Linked DNA regions of Homo sapiens: region 1 is linked to region 2. The links come from fine-mapping of genetic effects on gene expression. A gene starts in region 2. The other region holds a variant in brackets. All regions are shown on one strand. Distances are between the middles of the regions. Region 1 overlaps GPR84-AS1 (GPR84, ZNF385A, ITGA5 and GTSF1 antisense RNA 1). Region 2 holds the start of ITGA5 (integrin subunit alpha 5).

Region 1 (4,385 bases), 27 kb before region 2:
TTTTTGGTAGAGATGGGATCTCACTATGTTGCCCAGGCTGGTCTCAAACTCCTGGCCTCACGTGATCCTCCCATCTCAGCCTCCCAGAGTGTTGGGATTACAGGTGTGAGCCACCATACCCAACCCTCTTCTCTTTAAATTAACTCTACTCTTTCCTTAACTCTTTCAGCTATGAAAATGTTTATGTTTATTTTTTAAAATATATACCCTGTTCTCCATATTAATCAGGGTTTGGTTGCAGAGAACAGAATCGATTCTAGCTAGATTAAGCAGTAAAGGACTTATTACTAGGGCATCAAATGGATGGATCACAGAATTCTGGGGAAGGCTGAAGAAACAAACTCTAGACTGGACTTCCAGAAATGATTCCTAAAGACTGCTAAGGGAGGCCAGTCGTGGTGGCTCACACCTGTAATACCAGCACTTTGGGAGGCCAAGGTGGGCAAATTGCTTGAGCCCAGGAGTTGGAGACCAACCTGGGCAACATAGTGAAACCCTGTCTCCACTAAAAATACAAAAATTAGCTGGGGTATGGTGGCATGCGCCTGCAGTCCCAGCTACTCAAGAGGCTGAAATGGAAGGATTGCCTGAGCTCAGGAAACGGAGGTTTCAGTAAACCGAGATCTTACTACTGCACTCCAGCCTGGGTGAGAGAGTGAGATCCTGCCTCAAAAAAGAAACTGCTAATCAGGCCGGGCACGGTGGCTCACACCTGTAATCCCAGCACTTTGGGAGGCCGAGGCAAGTGGATCACCTGAGGTCAGGAGTTCAAGACCAGCCTGACCAACACGGTGAAGCCCCGTCTCTACGAAAAATACACAAAAATTATCCAGGCGTGGTGGTGGGTGCCTGTAATCCCAGCTACTCAGGAGGCTGAGACATGAGAATTGCTTGAACCCAGGAGGTAGAGGTTGCAGTGAGCTGCACTCCAGCCTGGACAACAGAGTGAAACTCCGTCTCAAAAAAAAAAAAAAGACTGCTAAAGGAGCTGCTACCGCTTCTACTATATTTAGGAAGCTTCTACTACATTCAAGAAGCTTCTACAATAGTTAGGAAGCTGCCATTGCAGCTGCTAGTCCAAGAAGTAACCACCTCTGCCACTGTCAGCATCCCTAAATGGATGCCCTGCACCCCGTCTTAACCCCTGCTGGCTTCAGAATCCAAGTGAAACACTAGTGCATCTGATTAGCAGAACTTAATTCAGAAGTGATTTAAGATAGCTAGCTAGAAGAGAATGTGGGAAATTTAGTCTTTAGCTTTCCAGCTTCTGCACACTAGAAGAGTGTGCATTCTGACCAAACAAATACATAAAATCCTTCACACTCCCACTGAAGCAATTACGACTTCGGTGCCAAGTTTTTTGAAAGAGTTGTCTATACCTGGTCTTAAATTCCCACTTACTCCTTAATCCATTGCAATCTGGCCACTCTATTACCATCATCACCACCCAATCCCCTATTTGCAGGACCAGTGGTCCGTTTTAGTCCTGCTCCCTGAAGCATTCAACAGTAGCAGATTGTTTCTTGTGATGCTTGTGATAGTGGTCATATCAATGTTGTTCATGAAAGAATTAGCTGGGGCACTGGGCGCAGTGGCTCACGCCTGTAATCCCAACACTTTGGGAGGCCGAGGCAGGTGGACCACTTGAGGTCAGGAGTTCAAGACCAGCCTGGCCAACATGGTGAAACCCCATCTCTACTAAAAAGTGCAAAAATTAGCCAGGCATGATGGTGCCCGCCTGTAATCCCAGCTACTCGAGAGGCTGAGACAGGAAAATCACTTGAACCCAGGAGGCAGAAGTTGCGGTGAGCTCAGATCATGCGACTGCACTCCAGCCTGGGCGACAGAGCAAGGAGATCAGTCTCAAAAAAAATGAATTACTTGGAGCCATCTTCCTCAAAGGGGCCTTGGACTTGAAGGGAATTAGAGCTTCAGCTGTCACCTAGACTCGCCCTTCCTTGTACATGACTAATCCAGATTAATGATGTTACTGTTCTCTCAGTCTTTTCAGAATTCCCTCACATTCAATTAGCCACCAAATCCTGGCATTTAAATACCAAAGATGACTTCCGAAGCCAACCAGTTCGTTGCATCTCCATCACCACTACTCTATTTCAGATCATTACCTTTGCCCGAACTATTGCAGCAGCTAGTCTTTTAGCCACTAGGTTTTCCTCATTCAGTTTATCTTCCACCTGCCATAGCACAACTTTCATGATATTTAATTGTTCTTAATTTACCCAGTAATAGTAAATAGCAGGCCGGGCATGGTGGCTCATGTTGGTAATCCCAACACTTTGGGAGGCTGAGGCAGGAGGATCACTTGAGCCCAGGAGTTCACAACCAACCTGTGCAACATAAAGAGACCTTGTCTCTACTAAAAATAAAAAAATTTAGCCAAGCATAGTGGCAAATACCTGTAGTCTCAGCTACTTGGAAGGCTGAGGCGGGAGGATGGCTTGACCCCAGGAGTTAGAAGCTACAGTGACCTGTGTTCACACCATTGCACTCCAGCATGGGTAACAGAGTGAG[G/A]CCCTGGCTAAAATAAATAAATAAATAAAAGAGTAATAGCAAAGGCTTATGAGCACTTGGTATGCACCAAGTACTATACAATGTACTTCATATGCATGTCACATTTAATTCCACATAATAAAGTGGATACTGTGCCTACAAGTAAAGATACAAGTCCTTCCTTGATAAATAAGGAAGCTGAAAGTCCTCAAACTTACAAGATTTGACCAGAGTTGTTTAGTTACTATATGGAGAAACCAGAACTGGAGTCATGTCTGCTACCCCTAAAGGCAGCACTCTTAACCCCACTGTATTTTATGATTGCTACAGCCTCATCTCTCCCCATCCTATTCATAGTCTAGCCATGGCGAACTCACCGTCTTTCTAATATATGGTGGTCTTTAATAACCATACCTCAGCACATCTTGTTTCCTGAAATGCACTTGTTCCCTCCCCTTCCCAATGCCTTTCTGCTTAGCATATTCCTATTCCACCTTCAATTCCAACTTAAATGTTACCTCTGGAGTAATTTTTCCAAGTTCCCTGTTCTATGCTCCTACTTTTCCCCATTCATACTTTTTTTTTCTTTTTTTTTGAGACGGAGTCTCGCTCTGTGGCCCAGGCTGGAGTGCAGTGGTGTGATCTCGGCTCACTGCAAGCTCCACCTCCCGAGTTCACGCCATTCTCCTGCCTCAGCCTCCCGAGTAGCTGGGACTACAGGCACCTGCCACCAAACCCGGCTAATTTTTTGTACTTTTAGTAGAGACGGGGTTTCACTATGTTAGCCAGGATGGTCTCGATCTCCTGACCTTGTGTCCGCCTGCCTTGGCCTCCGCTGGGATTACAGGCATGAGTGCTGGGATTACAGGCATGTAAGTGCTGGGATTACAGGCATGAGCCACCGCGCCTGGCCCGTTCACTCTTTTTTTAATAATACTTACTGAGTTGTGTTGTAATTAGCTTCTTAATGCTTGTATCTTTCAGGGTTTAGAAGGAAACAGAAACCACTCTTGATATTTTAAGCAGAAAGGGAATTTAATATAGAAAATTAGGTACTTACAAAATCATTTGAATAGCTGAAGGAGCAGGCTATATGTGAGACCTCTAGGAATGACTCTCAGAACACTACTGAACTAACTCACCAAAGGAGCTACAGCCTCTGATGACCACTGGAATACTAAGTTTAAGAAGATAGCACCATAGCTACAATCTAGAGATCAGGAAACTGCCACACAGTCCAACAACATATGTAATATCAGACTTTTTATAGAGCTACTGACTAATGTAAACATCCAAGTACATGGTCCACAGAAGAGAGAATAAAGGAAACTGGATAATCAGTACCTGGAGCATTGAGAGTTTGCTCTAGGGTGTGTTGGGGTTTTTGAATGTTTACTTTCATAATAAGATTGAAGTAAATGATGAGTTAATGGGTGCAGCACACCAGCATGGCACATGTATACATATGCAACTAACCTGCACATTGTGCACATGTACCCTAAAACTTAAAGTATAATAATAATAAAAGAAAAAAAAAAGAAGAAAAAAAGATTGAGGTAAGTCTCTCTTTTTTTTTTTGGAAGGAAATTAGTTATTTTCAAAGCTCAGAGAAATATGTACCATATGCCAAACCACCCCCCAAACCACCCCCACAAAAAAAAAAACTGTTACTATAGTAGTTGAGTACTAAATGGACAGGCAAACCTACTTGACAAAAGTGGTTATACCCAGGCACAGTGGCTCAAGCCTGTAATCACAACCCTTTAGGTGGCCAGCGTGGGAGAATCACTTGAGGCCAGGAGTTCAAGACCAGCCTCAGCAACATAGCGAGACCGTCTCCACGAGAAAAAAAAAAATTTAAAAATTAGCCAGGC
Region 2 (4,385 bases):
TCACTGGCCTTTCTAGGTCAGCTTCCAGGCCTGGAGGTCTGTGCTGAAGTAGCTCTAATTAGGAGGGGACCCCAAGTTAAGGACGAACCCAGAGCAGAGGAAGAGAGGATCAGGCAAAGGCAGGCATGGTGAGAGGAAAGGCAGGAGGTGTTGGGGCCACTGGGAGAGGACTTATAAGGGCAGAAAGAGCCAAGAGAGGAGGGATATTGGGGAGAGTAGAAAGGCCAGCCAAAGAATGACTAAGGGGCTCCCGGTGTAAACAGGAGCAGGGAATGGACAGGGAGGGGGCCTGTTTGAGTTGGCCAAGGCTAGGGGTGGAGTGGGGAGGAGGACTGGGGCAGGACGCTATGTCCCCTGTCCCCCACCAAGGCTCCTGGGAGGAGCTGAGTCACACACCTCCTTCCCTGCACCCCTCCCCACCCCCACCCCTAATCTCCCAAATCCTGGGAAAATCTAAAGAGTTTGCCTAGACTGAGAAAGGAGAGTGTTTGGTTCACACACGTGTTTTGCTGGGCTAAAAAGCAATCAGGCCTCAGCCCTTCTCCTCCCAAAGGGGGTTCCCAGCCCATGGCTTGAGTAGCTCTCACCTAAAGGTTGCCTTTTTGGCAATGCTGGGCTTAAAGATCCTGACCCAGAGATTCCCTGGGTTCCTCACCTAAGAAAGGGTCAGGACTTGCAGATGTGAGAATGGGATACGGGCCAGCATTGCCCCACAGTCTGGCCAGCCAGCCTCTCCCTTGGGCTGCAGCTGGCTCTGGAGGGGGGCTTTTAAAAAAGCAGATGGGTGATTTGGGACAGGAAGTGGAGTAGCAGAGTGAGGGGGAGAGTCATGGCAGGAAAAAAACATTGACTCTGGGCACTCTTATTCTGAGCCTTTCAGCCCGAAGTGGGGCAGGGGACTGGAGAACAGAAGGGACAGGGTTGACAGGATATTATTGACAGGGTATTATTCTGGAAAGTGAGGAGTCCTGGAGGAAAGAGACTGAAAGGACTTGTAGTCCCCTCCCCCAGACTAAGATAAAGGCTAGAATCCTGAAAAGTGATCTCATCACACAGAGCCTGAGCTTGGGGAAGAGGTGGGCAGGGGGTCACTGCCTTCCCTTTCTAGAGTCCCTTCCTCTACTTCCACAGGGGAATCTGGGAAGAATGGGGTCCTGGCTTTCCGCTCCCATTGTTTTTTTGGTTTTTGGTTTTTGGATTTTTTTTTTTTTTTTTTTTTTGGATACAGTCTTGCTCTGTCACCCAGGCTAGAGTGCAGTGGTGCAATCGCGGCTCATTGCAGTCTCTGCCTCCTGGGTTCAAGTAATTATCCTGCCTCAGCTTCCCGAGTAGCTGGGATTACAGGTGCGGACCACCACATCTGGATAATTTTTGTATTTTTAGTGGAGATGGGTTTTGCCATGTTGGCCAGGCTGGTCTTGAACTCCTGGCCTCAGGTGATCTGCTCACCTCGGCATCCCAAAGTGCTGGGATTACAGGTGTGAGCCACCGTGCCTGGCCAGAGCTCCCAGCGTTTACAGCCATTAGGAGCTGAAGGTTGGGTCCCTTTGCAAGACTTTCCACCACCACCACCACCTCTCACAATTCTCCAGGTTTGTAGGAACCCGGCCAGTTTAATCAAGCAGGTACTGAGGGGCCAGCCACTCGCAGGCTTTTGGTCAACTGTCAGATCCAAGGAAGGGGCTCAGCAGAGGTTTACATACCCTAGGACCAAGAAGGGGGCAAACTGGAGCAGAATCCTCCTGATGAATGACCCCAAACTCCTGGGTTTTCAATACTAGCAAGCTTGGAGGAGGAAGCAGCGGAACTTGAGGAGCCCGTGTAGGTCCTCTAGCAAGCTGACTGCGAACGCTGTCTCTGTACCTCAACTGTTGTGTCCCAAATCCAGCTGGCCAGAACCCAGGCACCCGGCGGCCCCGGAAGGCAAGGGGGAATCCCAGTTGGCCGGACGCCAGAGGAGTCTCCTGTCTCTTTAGACCCCAAAGTCTCCTCCCTAAAGCACTGAGGGAGACCCCACACACATATACAGGCTTCCTCCGCCCACCAGAGGTGATTCCTTTCCTCATTAGGAAATTCTCCGCTCCCTTTTCCGACTCGTTTTCCGAGCGTTTACGTTGTACATCTGGAAAGGAATGGGGAGGAAGGAGGGGGAAGCAGAGAGGAGGGGGAAGAACCCAAACCCGCCCAGTCTAACCCAGTCCAGACAACCGGCTTCCAGCTGGGGCTGGGGAAAGGGGGTTGGAGGGGTGCGCCCCCCCCCCACGCCCCTTAGGGGTGGGGGACGCGGGCTCAGAGTTCCAGGGACCCAGGAATGCCCCCCCGCCAGCCCCCTCGGCAGGCGGGGGGAGGGCTCAGCCGGGAGTTTGGCAAACTCCTCCCCGCGTTGAGTCATTCGCCTCTGGGAGGTTTAGGAAGCGGCTCCGGGTCGGTGGCCCCAGGACAGGGAAGAGCGGGCGCTATGGGGAGCCGGACGCCAGAGTCCCCTCTCCACGCCGTGCAGCTGCGCTGGGGCCCCCGGCGCCGACCCCCGCTGCTGCCGCTGCTGTTGCTGCTGCTGCCGCCGCCACCCAGGGTCGGGGGCTTCAACTTAGACGCGGAGGCCCCAGCAGTACTCTCGGGGCCCCCGGGCTCCTTCTTCGGATTCTCAGTGGAGTTTTACCGGCCGGGAACAGACGGGTGAGTGAGGAGGGCTGGAGACGGGATGGGGGTGGGGGAGCCGCCTGGAGACTGGGGGCGCGGCTGGGGTCTGGAGGGGACCAGGGCTTAAGTTTGAGGGTGGAGTTTGTAAGGAATAGAGCTGCAGTTGGGGGCCCTGGCTAGAGTTGGGGGCCCGCGCTGGAGTAGGGAGGGCACCGTGGCGGGTGAGGAGGGGCCCTGGCGTTTGAGATCAGTGGGGAGACATGTGTCCGGTGGGGAGAGGACACGGAGCTGGAGAAGTCTGGGCAGGGGTCTCCGGGCCAAGGGAGAGGAGAGCGCGTGAATGGAGAGCTGAGGGTCTCTGGCTGAAGTCTGTGGGCTGCTGGGACCTGGGGCGGGTGGGGGCGCAGAGGGGGCGCAGAGGCCGGGAAGGGCTTTTGGGGGCTCCAGGAGACCTCGGGATCCGTAGGGGCCATTGTGCGGCGAGAGAACGGGTAGAAGCCGAATGAGCTACGTGTAGTAGGAGGAAAGTCAAAGACTGAGGGGGTCGGAAGGTTAAATGGGGGCCAGCCTCATCCTCCCCTCCCCCCTCAACTCAGACCGGGGAAAGACCCGAGAGAGGACGGCGGCTCCCTCTCCTTTCTCCTCTGTCTCCTACTCCTCCCTCCGCCCCCAATCTCTGTTCAGGCGAGGGGATCCGAGAACTGGGGGCGAGTGCGGGGACCCTGGCACTGGGGCCCTGGGGCTGGGGGCGAACTCAGCCAAGGGCGGGTGCTGGGATGTGTCGGGAGGGGTGTGTGCGCGCGTGAAGGGGGGTGGGCGGTTTCCCTCTTCCTCTGGCTCTTGGGAGGAAGAGAAAAGCTGGTTTCCTGTAGCTGGTCGGCTGGAGCTGTGCTGAGACCGGGACTTCTGGGGCTGGGGTCGGAAGCTGGGGAGACGGGGGCTCCGTGGGGCCAAGAACGTCAGAATGAAGGACTCAGGACCCTGGAAATCTCAAAGGAGGATCCTTATTCCCAACTCAGCACAGTGATAAGCAGACCCGGACCCCGAGTGCCTAGAAAATGGGGTACTGACAGGCTTGGGAAACAGGAGTTAGAGTGGAAGCAACATTAGAACCAAGGGTGTCTGTTTAAATGTGGGATGGCGGGGAGATTGGGAAGCAAGAGAGGTAGGTGGTTGCTCCTGGGCTAGGCCATAGATGCCAGATTCCTGGTCCTCCACAATGACTGGTGTAATCCTTTTTCTTCTACATCTCTGAGCTGGGAGCTTCCTACTGCTCACCCCCACCCCAACCCCAGGATCTCAGGGTTTGAGGGGAATTCTGTCAGAAGCGACCTGTTTTTACACATGAGACAGTTAACTGATCTCTACTCAGTCCCTATAGTTTTTGGAGAAAAGGGGTTAATCTAGCTAATACAACTGGGGAGAAAGGCAAATTCTCCTTTGTCTGGAGGACTTGGGGATGGGAGAAAAGAAAAATGATTAGGCCCCGACTGTTGTTCTGGGCTATTCAAGGTCCCCACCCAACCCCCACCCCACCCCCCTGGCCTTTTGCCCAAACCCCATTGCATCATCACCCTGGCCTGGAGCCTCTGCCAGGCCTGGTCTCCCCCAGGTTCCCTCAAACTTCTTATCACAGCCCTAATGGAGTAGAAAAGAGGGAAGGAGGAAGGGGATGAGGTCTCCTCCCGCAGATCAGAGTATCTAGTTGTCTGGCATTTAACCTTCTCTTTACTCCCCCCTCCCCT

The links. PIP is the estimated chance that this variant, and not a neighbour inherited with it, causes the effect. A credible set is the group of variants that fine-mapping cannot tell apart.
Region 1: its variant is the best candidate, but not a certain one, in a credible set for the expression of ITGA5 in whole blood (TOPMed, PIP 0.88).

Annotation. Positions count from the first base shown.
Region 1 is chr12:54,443,793-54,448,177 of GRCh38, reverse strand. All of the region lies in intron 3 of GPR84-AS1 (GPR84, ZNF385A, ITGA5 and GTSF1 antisense RNA 1), which reads right to left. Among named protein-coding and RNA genes, the nearest start is that of ITGA5, 27 kb to the right of the region's middle. The variant G/A (reference allele first, on the strand shown) is at 2,533.
Region 2 is chr12:54,417,272-54,421,656 of GRCh38, reverse strand. ITGA5 (integrin subunit alpha 5) reads left to right here and starts at 2,391. Exons shown (of 30, transcript NM_002205.5): 1 at 2,391-2,676. The coding sequence starts at 2,459. All of the region lies in intron 2 of GPR84-AS1 (GPR84, ZNF385A, ITGA5 and GTSF1 antisense RNA 1), which reads right to left.